2 separate regions of the Homo sapiens genome follow, and region 2 is linked to region 1. Evidence: fine-mapped expression QTL. A gene starts in region 1. The other region holds a variant in brackets. All regions are shown on one strand. Distances are from middle to middle. Region 1 holds the start of LINC01269 (long intergenic non-protein coding RNA 1269). Region 2 overlaps TTC9 (tetratricopeptide repeat domain 9).

What was found. PIP is the estimated chance that this variant, and not a neighbour inherited with it, causes the effect. A credible set is the group of variants that fine-mapping cannot tell apart.
Region 2: its variant is the best candidate, but not a certain one, in a credible set for the expression of LINC01269 in whole blood (TOPMed, PIP 0.61).

What each region holds. Positions count from the first base shown.
Region 1 is chr14:70,696,258-70,701,631 of GRCh38, forward strand. LINC01269 (long intergenic non-protein coding RNA 1269) reads left to right here and starts at 2,441. Exons shown (of 4, transcript NR_125769.1): 1 at 2,441-2,599; 2 at 3,738-3,943. RefSeq lists enhancers at 1,551-2,750, 2,157-2,658, 2,659-3,158.
Region 2 is chr14:70,653,180-70,658,553 of GRCh38, forward strand. All of the region lies in intron 1 of TTC9 (tetratricopeptide repeat domain 9), which reads left to right. Among named protein-coding and RNA genes, the nearest start is that of TTC9, 14 kb to the left of the region's middle. RefSeq lists enhancers at 342-928, 1,502-1,561 and a silencer at 1,302-1,441. The variant G/C (reference allele first, on the strand shown) is at 2,614.

The DNA.
Region 1 (5,374 bases):
TCCATCTTTCAAGTCGTTAATGAAAATACTGATGAATACTGGGAGTTATTCAGGTCCCTGGGAGGCCTCTCCTCCATCCCTTCATCTTTTTGCCTGGCAAGTAAACTGGAAGGGATGAATCCTCTTTTCAGATAGTCTTTGCCCACTGTTCAAGAGCTTTTGTCTAATCTTTTCATTCATTCATTTATTCAATCACTCATTTATTCATTTGCTAGGGCTAGAGGCTTAGCACAGTCCCTGGCACATGGAAAATGCTAAACAAATGCAAGCTCTTAGTGTTATGAGGTGCTGTGGAGAAACAGAGATGCACAGGATAGACCCCAGCCCTGAGCAGTAAGAATGGGAATAAGAATTACAGCTGCCAATTTTGAAATACTTGCCAGATACTGGGCTACGTACCGTCCAGACAATATCCAGCCCAGGCCAGGTATCATCCACCCTACAGAGGCATTTGTTGGTAATGATTAAAAGGGAGGATTCTGGCCAGGCGTGGTGGCTCACGCCTCTAATTCCAGCACTTTGGGAAGCCGAGGTGGGCAGATCACTTGAGGTCAGGAGTTTGAGACCAGCCTGGCCAAATGGTGAAACCCCATCTCTACAAAAATTAGCCAGGCATGGTGGCGGGTGCCTGTAGTCCCAGCTACTCGGGAGGCTGAGGCAGGAGAATTGCTTGAACCTGGGAGGCAGAGGTTGCAGTGAGCTGAGGTAGTGCCACTGCACTCCAGCCTGGGCAATAGAGTGAGACTCAGTTAAAAAAAAAAAAAAAAGTGAGGATTCTAAAGTCAAAATTCTTATTCTAGCTTTCCACTGACTGGCTTCTTTGCCTTAGATTCTCCCTCCGTACAGTAAGGGTACTATTAGTTATTTCATAGGGTTACTGTGAGGATTTAAATTATTAAATAATACAGAATTGGTACTTGGAGCACTGCCCAGCATATAATATGCACTGAACAAATGCTGGCAATTATTATTATTATTTGATGTAATACAATTACCCTTTATGAGGTAAGTGTTATTATCAGTGTTTTACCAACAAGAAAGCTGAAGTTTAGGAAGCCTGAGTAATTTGCCTAAAGTCCTACAACCAAATAATGGAACTCGGGTCCAAACCCAAATCTGATTCCAAATTCCATTTGCTTTATTACTGTATGCTAGAAAGGAAGAAAACATGCATACATACATACATAATTATTTTTACAAGACAGAAAAGCAAATGAGACTGTAGAGCACAGAATATTTTCATGGCGCATAGTAGATTCTCAATGAATCCAGCCAAATAATGATGATGTTGATGATGTCAGTAATGATGATGACAAAATTCTAAAGTGCCATACTGAAGTTTTAAAAAATTGTTTTAAGATGTCACAGGACAGAGAGAGATCATTTATGAAGAGAGGAATAGTTGGAGACTTTCCTGGAAAAGGTGGCATTTGCAAAGGCCTTAAAGGATGACCATGAGTTGGACACAAGGAGAGAAGAGAAAAAGGCACCCGGGTAGAGGAAACTGCAGGAGCAAAGGCTTACAGACATGAATGCTTAGGGTGTGTGTGAAAAGAAAGAGCAAGAAGTTCCACTGGACAGTACGTGTTATATGAAAGAAAATAGTTGGGACTGAGCTGGAAAGGAAGGAGACACACCCTTATTGACACATGAGGCCTTGCCCAAAAGACTGGTCAAAGCAGAGAGATTTCTCACACTTCAGAGTCTTCTGAAACTCACATTGGAGAAACAGCCATATGAGGGATTTGGAGATGAGGAATGGGGTTTCTTCAATATTCAGGCAAGAGTAAGTACCACAATGCTTATGCAATAAAGCTTCAGTTTGAGGTGAGGGTCAGTTTGAGGTGAGGGCTAGGCAGGGCTGACATTCAGCCAACACATGTGTATCAATATAGGTTGTTGAAAATATTAAACTGCTTTTCCTCCAGGCTGGTAAATGGCACTACCCTGAACCACCCAAGGCCCCTTCCCCTGGACTCCAGGACCTCCTCGACATCCTTGCATAAAAACATTAATTTCTGGCATTATTTTGATAATCACCCCTGGAGCTAGGGGACTTGGCTTGAGGATACTTTTGCATAGCATTTTACTTAACATTGAAAAACACAACAGTTTTATCAATAAATGGGTTGCAGAATGTAAAAGCAAACAGACCAACCGCTACACTCTGGCCTCAGATATTCCTCAAGCTAGATCCTTCTGGGGAACTAACTCTTTTCCTGCTGAGTCACTGTGGCTGCAGCCCTGCCCTTCCATGTGACTGTGTCATTTGGCATTATGGTTCCTCCTGAGCCCAAGGGAACTACAAAGGTCTGTATCAGGACACTGGGCATTGCCACTGTGCTAGGTGCACACACCTGACTGATCGTCTTGTGGGCTCCCGCATTTCCTGTTGCTCCAGGCATCAGATATATCCCTGGGATCCCTCCATTAGCTTGGCAATGCTATGGAAGTTGCCAGAAAAAGAATCCTAAGGAATTGGTTCTTGGCAAATCCTAAGGAATTTGGCTCAGGCATTTGTCTTCCTAATGAACTGGTGGGGAGGTAGCTGTGTTGGTACATCATCTCCAAGGCAGGATCCTGCCCTCTGAAGCTTGAGGTGAGAGCGGGGACATGGGGGGTGGTGGGGAAGCTTGGGACCTGCTCTTCCCTCTGCCATGAATTTTCTCTTTCTGCCCAAAGCAATGGCTTCTCTTAGCCCTGCATTTCAATTTGATTGCTCTCAGTCCCCACGGTCACCTTCCCCCACCCACAGCTCTTCACAAAAGACAGCCAAGAACAGGGAGGAAGGGATCCTGAGGCAGAGTCCCTTTGAGCCCAATTGAGGCTGGGGTCCCCGGGCAAATCTGCACCCTGTGCAACTCCTGGGACTGCAGATGTGAGTGATGCCCCAGGATGAACGGTGCCCCAAAAGCCTTGAGCGGGGGAACCCTGTGTGCCATCTGCCACTTCTCCCTTGGGAAGATAGCCCCACCACTGAGCCAGGGAGCACCAGGAGGAGGTCCTGGATCTCTAACATCTGTCATCCTGCTGGGTAATGATACTGTGTCTTTCATAAAAGTCAGAACTAGCCTGGGCAACATGGAGAAACCTCATCTCTACAAAAAAAAAAAAAAAGCTGGGCATGGCAGTCATGTACCTATCAGTGCCAACTACTTAGGAGGCTGAGGTGTGAGGATCGTTTGAGCCAGGAGGCAGAGACTGCAGTGAGCTATGATGACACCACTGCACTCCAGTCTAGGAGACAGAGTGAGTCCCTGTCAAAAAAATAAAAATTAAAAAGAAAAGCTTTCCATCCCTCCCTTTTAGAGAAAGCAAAGAAGACACATAGAAGACGGTAATTCACACACCTACAGGTGTGGCTGTGGTCACAGGCTTTGCCCAGGGACCTTTCCTGGGAGGGGAAAGAAAAGCCTATGAATTGCATTGAGGACCAGAACAAGGGCACAGGATATGGAGGGAGGTGACAACGAAATGGTTTTTATTGGCAATCAGTGCTTCACACACTGCGGTCCCTCCTACCAGTCCGCTAGCAGGTTCCTAGGGAAGCAACACGTCTTCTATTTGGCCATGCACACACCCCCACACCCCTCTACAGCAGGGTGCACTTTCTGTTCTCCTGCATGGCTGGCTTGATGCTCACCCTGCAGCCCAGTGACAGGAGGAATGACATCACGCCTGCCTGTGCAGAACCTACCTTCCATTCCCTATCTCAACTGTGCTCTTCTTCTCCACAGTGGCTCCCAAAGTCTCAAGCCCACTGTGCTGATTTGAGCATTTGGCTCAGCCTTTTCTGGTCATCACCAACGTTCACCTGGCCATGCTGATGGCAGCACGCATGGATCTGGCCATTCCCACAGCCTGGTCACCCCATGGTGGCCCTTGATTGAGCTTGCCATGGCACGGAAGGGGGCCTCTCCTACTCACCGATCTCCTTATTGAGGTACAGCACATTCATTTGTATTCATATGGTAGTAATACCTAATTTTTATAAAACTCCTCAAGTGCCAGGCACTGTCCAAAGTATTTACATACATTACTCATTTAATCCTCACAATCACATGATATATACTGTTAGCCCCAATTTACAGATTGAGGAAACTTGCCCATGGAGACTTTTGTTAACATATTCAAAGTTGCATGTAAGGAACAGGGCCCAGATTTCAACCCAAGCTACTAAGTTCCCAAGTGCATGTGTGTTCCAAAACATCATGCCATGAGGCTGCTGAAGATACACATGACTGGTATCCAAATCCTTCCTAGGAATAGGCAGTGATGCTATGGGTGGAGAAGCATGGAGGAGGCAGATCCTGGAAAGAGGGTGAGCAAAGGGCACAGAAAGGGGACACTGGGAGTCAGAAGCCAAAGGGGAACTTGGACTTCCCTCCGTTCTCCAAGGCCTGGCTCTCTTTGAAGATAGTGTGGGATGAGAGAGAGAACAGAATACTAAAGAACAGAATGAGAGCAGGTGAGCAGTGGGCCCAGAGGAGAGGAATGCACACAGGCTGAAGGGAGAGAAGAGACAAAATGGACATAGCACGTCTCACAAGCCAATGGGAGGAGCTGGGAACCCAGCATTAGCTGGAAGGTGCTCACCTTCCCTCTTGATGGTTGACTCAGTGCCGACACAGACTTTAGCTGTCAGCCTGAAAGCAATCAGCTCATCATTGCAGCCTCTTTATTGTCTAAATTTTTCTGAAAGCATGAGAAGCCACTGGCCTTTCAACAGGGCTACCGAGGACCTGGGGAAGAGAAGGGCAGGGAAGCAGAGACAGAGGCCAAACACAAGTGCTTCTGCCAGCAGGGTTCAGAGCACATCTGGCAACCCCAGCTCCCAGCCCTGAAGCAGGCACCAGGCTACAAGGACAGACATAGACCAGGGACAAGGAAAAGGAAGGGCCAGCCCCAAAGCCCTTGGGATGCCTTGTCAACAGGCCAGTGTCCTTTGGAAAACACTCCAAAGGAAACAACAAATGTGAGACAAAGGATTTCCTTCCTCTTCCCTCATGTCGGAAATTCCCTGAGTTTCTTTCCTGGACCACTTGTCTGTCTCTATAACAATCCTACACACTGGTCAAAGTTTTTAAGGCCAAAAGTTTTAAAGGAAATGGAAAGAGAAGTAAGATTGAAAAGATGTGTCAGAGTCTGTTGCTGTCACTGTGGGAGCTCACTCTTTCTTGTCACAGTGAACAAAGCTGAGGAAACCAAGATTTTTCCATGCATTTGCTGGGGTTGGGACCCATGGCCTAGAACTAGGGGTCAGCGGAAAACAGAGCATGCCCATTAGACAAAGGGGTTAGCGAGAAGGAAGATAGAAGCAGATGCCAATGGGGCAGGGAGCTGTAGGGAAAAGAGGGGGAAGAGGGAGGGATGG
Region 2 (5,374 bases), 43 kb before region 1:
GCTTAACAGATGCTAGTTAATATTTGAATCTAACTCCTACTCCAGTATGCATGAAGACAGAGGAAAATATAGGGAAAGAGAGAGGGAAAGAATGCAGCAAAGAAGGCTATGGGGAAACACGGGAAGCAAGTGAGCAAAAAGGTGAGGACAAAACAGGGGCCAGGGGAAAGAGTGCCATCTCCCTAAGTGTCTGCAAGACAGGAGAGGTGAGAAGGTATAAGCCAACAGCCTTTGGTGTGGACATTGTCTACCACCATGCCTGGTGTATTCCTGGTCAAGGGAGGCTGAGTGAACATATAACTCATCAGTTAGTTGAAAGACCACAGAGTTCCACCATGACCAAGAGCCCATGGGTCAGGGGTCTATGCCCCTTCCAGCTTCTCAGGATTTGGGTCAGTCTAAGAAACACTTAGAAACTGTGGGTTCTAGGCACACATCATCTCCAGCCTGAGATTCTCCAAATGAATAAGGCTCAGTTAGACAGTGCCTGTTCCCTGCCACTTTTCACACTTTGCCCCAGGATTCCCCCTGACCCTGTCTTTGAAATGAAAAGCAGGGAAAGAACTTCAGGCACTCTCACAAGTCAGACCAGTTGAGAATCTGACAGCGGAAAATAAGGATTTGCCTGCTGGGAAGAGAAGATACATGCTGTGATCATTTGAGTCCCCAGGGGAGCTTAACAAGAAAGAAGGCTTTCTGGTGGGAAGAGAAACAGAGGATGGCAGAGGCTCATAGAAGGAGACATCCGACAGAGAAGCCATGGGGCTGGCAGCCTCGGGACTGCCCCACCCACCCTCTTGTGCATCAGGCAGATGCCAGCTTACTGAGCTTCCTTATTGGGGTAGGATGAAGAAAGTCCTTGGCTTAATCAGGCATCTTGGGAGTGAGAGCACTAGCAGGTGTGTCCCTTGGATCCGCTCACAGCTGCTCCTCCACCAAAACACCCAGGGTCCCTCATGACCCTAAGCATCCCCAGAACAGTGCCCCATGAAGAGGCAGTGCTTTCTGCCTAGGAAACCCTTCTGAATCCCTTTTCACACCTCTCCTCCCAAGTTCCTCTTCCCCTCATCCCCCAGCTCTCTCTGAAGGGATGATAATGGTTAGTGGTGACTTTTTAAAAATAGTTTCTGCCCGGGAGTGGTGGCTTATGCCTGTAATCCCAGCAGTTTGGGAGGCCAAAGTGGGTGAACCACCTGAGGTCAGGAGTTTGAGACCAGCCTGGCCAACATGGTGAAACCCTGTCTCTACTAAAAATACAAAAATTAGCCGGGCGTGGCGGTATATGCTTGTAGTCCCAGCTACTCAGGAGGCTGAGGCAGAAGAGTTGCTTGAACCTGGGGGCGGAGGTTGCAGTGAGCCGAGATTGCACTACTGCACTCCAGCCTGGGCAACAGTAAGGCTCTGTCTCAAAAAAAAAAAAAAAAAAAAAAAAAAAAAAAAAAATTCTAATTACAAAAGTAAAGCATCATAGTTGCAGAAGTTATTGATACTAAAAGAAAAACCTCAGACAAATTAAATTTAGCAGAGTTTAATTGAGCAAAGAATGACTCGTGAATCGGGCAGCCTCCCAAGCCCGAATAGGCTCAGAGAGACTTCAGTGCAGCCACATGGTGGAAGAAGATTTACGAAACAGAAAAAGGAAAGCCACCGTACAAAAAAATGGAAGCGAGGTACAGAAACAGCTGATACTTAACAGCTCTGCATTTGCCTTATTTGAACTCAGTTTGAACACTTGGTTGCCTTTGATTGGCTAAAACTCAGTTGATTGGCATAAGAGTAGGTTGCAGACTGTTTACACATCCAGCTAGTTTTCAGTTTACTATGGTTCCTTATGTACAAAGAAACCTTTAGGCCAAACTTAGACTATGTAAGGAGGCAGCTTTAGGCTAAATTTAATTTAGCATTGAAAATATAAGAAATTACAAAGAAGCAGCCCAGGCTCAGTGGCTCCCGCCTGTAATCCCAGCACTTTGGGAGGCCGAGGTGGGTGGATCACCTGAGGTTGGGTGTTTGAGAACAGCCTGGCCAACATGGGGAAACCCTGTCTCTACTAAAAATACAAAAATTAGCCAGGCGCAGTGGCGTGCACCTGTAGTCCTAGCTACTCGGGAGGCTGAGGCAGGAGACTCGCCTGAACCTGGGAGGCGGAGGTTGCAGTGAGCCGAGATCGCGCCACTGCTCTCCAAGCGTCGCTTGGGCGACAGAGCGAGACTCCATCTCAAGAAACAAAAAAAAAAAAACAAAGAAGAAGGTAAAACTCTGTCATTTACCACCCCAAGATGACAACAGTTAACCGTTTTGGTTTATTTCCTTGCCGTTTTTCTTCCGTGTGGGTGTATGATCATTTATATGTAAAACAAACATCAGCCAACCCCCTTCAGGTCTACCTTTCCCAGTGTATTTAGGAAACAAGGGGTTGTTCTCACGTGGGCTGGGGCCACTGCAGGGACCTCCTGTCTTTTCTCCCCTCCCCTCCCACAGGATGCTGCTCACTCTGTTTGCATGACAACCAAGGGGCCACTCGACTTCCTGTTGCTGCTACTTCCTTTTCACATTCCACAGCACCACTACACCCAGATGTATAATTTCACTAGACTTTACTGAAGGTTATGA[G/C]ATGCAGAAGGAGTTTACATCTCAAAAATTGAATAGTAGAAATTCTTCCTCCTAAAACTCATTTGGCCATCAGACCACCAGGAATTTCAAATGGACCACTCACATTTTTTGGCAGGTTCCAGCTCCCCGCCATGCTGCTTGGACTCTTTCTCCCCGCCAGCTCCTCTCAGCTTCTTAGGTTTCCCCACTCTCAGATTCCCTTCATTTCATATACAAAGCAGTCTGGGCATCTTTTCATCTACGTGTGTGCCTGCTACTGACCTCTAAGCTTCACCTTCCCCACCTGAAGCAGTTGATGAAGCCAGTCTCCTCCAAAAAGATAATTTATTCCTTTAAACTCTGCTATAGATATTACAAATTCTTCACCCATACAGAAGGAGCAGAACTTTTAAAAGAAAAAATAATTCTTCACCCTGATACACACACACACACACACACACACACACACACACACATTTATTTTTCACAACATTCAGGTTTATACTGTACAAACTTTAGCAACCTTCATGTTTTTCCACCAGTGTTTTCATTGAAAATATTTTTCACCGTTCCACAGCATGATTGTAATGGCTGTGTAATGTTCCATTGCACCAATGTCCCATTATTTATTTAACTAATCTACTGATGGATACTTAGGTTATTTCCAGCATTCTGTGATTACAGCACAATGCTGCCAAAGACGTGCTCTTTCCGCTATACATGTGCCTGTTAATTATCCTATCCCCAAACACATCTGAGGACATGAGGGAAAGATGGTGGGAGAGGCAATAGGAACAGGGAACATGTCTCTGGGGCAGGAGAGGGGATTGAAATGGGAGACGTTCTTTAATGTCCAAAAAGAGAACAGGATAGAACTCTGGCTTCTAAGGTCTTCCCATTCTGGCTTAGAGTTTCTGCCAATGAACGTGACGTGTGTACTTGGCCAGAGCTGAGAAGGAAAAGATAATATGGGGCGATGGGTTTCTTCTGAATATTTCTGGGAATACACTCATCTTCACATTCCAAATGGCCAATCTGGCCACTCCAAAGTCCCGCTTCCAGACTGAGGAAGGGGTGTTAATGAAGATTCCAGCAAACAACAGCTCTGTCCTACCAACTTTTCACTACTGCCTTCTCCCTCTCTGTCTACTACACCAAAGTCAAGGGTGAGAGTAAGGGGCCATAGGTGGGATAACTTCTAAGTGTTCTGCCATAGCACCCAGATTGGTGCCAAAGGGCTGAGCTGACCTTAAGCTTTGGCATTACAACTCCCTTGGGCAGATTCCTATATGCTTTAAAGGACTGTCAATGTAAGCTTTCAGCTTACAGGATTTTATACTGACTTTCCATGCAGTTCTTTTACCTGCCACTTTGACAGCTATTTTTGCCAACAGAGGGTAATTAAAAAGAATATAAACTCCTTGAAGATATCAATATCTCTTGAATGCTTTCCATATTCCTTATGAAGCCCTGGGCACAGGCCACGATGAGTGAATCCTTATTGACTAAGTTTACTAAGAGTGCCTACCCGAAATTGTGTAGTGATGATGCGTGGGAAGCAGCAGCTCTGGTAGTGATCCCAAAGGTGGGGCATCCATGTGAAGAATCAGAGGGATTCAAGGGAGCAGCTTGGTTATGATGAAAAGGAGAGATCTCCAAAGACAGTGTTGCTAAAACAAAGAAAACAAAAGACACACTTGACAGTGTTTGTTTGAATCTAGTGCAAGCACATACTAGAATGGAAAAGTGGAAGGTCAGAAATTAATGTGAATGGAATCAAAGGAGATTTAGCCCCCTAGATAAAGCCAAACAGCTCCTGGCAGTAGAAATAGCAGCAGCAGTAGTGGGAGACTCTCTGGGCAGCAGGCAGGAGAAATAGGTATTGGAGTGAACAAAGAAACGGCTACTTGTGGGCCAGACACGGTGGCTCACACCTGTAATCCCAGTGCTTTGGGAGGCCGAGGCGGGCAGATCACCTGAGGTCAGGAGTTCAAGACCAGCCTGGGTAACATGGTGAAACCCCATCTCTACTAAAAATACAAAAATTAGCCAGACCTGGTGGCAGGCACCTGTAATCCCAGCTACTTGGGAGGCTGAGGCAGGAGAATTGCTTGAACCCAGGAGGCAGAGGTTGCAGTGAGCTGAGATAGTGCCACTGCACTCCAGCTTGGGCGACAGAGCGAGACTCCATCTCAAACAAACAAACAAACAAACAAAGAAACAGCCACTTGGAGGGTGCTAACTCTCTGAGCCAGAGTTCTCAGTCCTCAGACTTGATAAAGACCTTCAGAGATCAGCCAGTCCGGGTTTCCACCATTACCACCAGCTCTGTTGGATTGGAACCAATATGGGATTTGGGGTTAAGTAAACACTAGCTCTTTCCCCATAAGAGCTAAGTGGGCTCAGCGGGTCACTTAACTTCCCCAAGCCTCAGCTCCTGGAAGCAGAGCTAATAATAGCTATTTCCCGGAGTCTCCATGAAAGTTAAATGAGTTGTAAAACACCGTATATATGTTAGGTCTTGCTGCCAGTTGGGCATAACCACTGTGGTAGGTGCTGTGTGAGAATTTAAAGATGTTCTAGAGATGTTTGTCTGAAAGAGCAAGGGAGACGCATTTCATAAAGAACAGTAATGATCCTGATTTGAGAATGTAGCTATGAAAAATAATTTTATTCTTTGTAAAACTAAAGGGCACATTTGATGATTGTACCTGTAGATCTGACTCATTAGAGAGACCCCCTAACAGGTTCTGCAAAGCATTACCATTAGGCAAGGATGTGC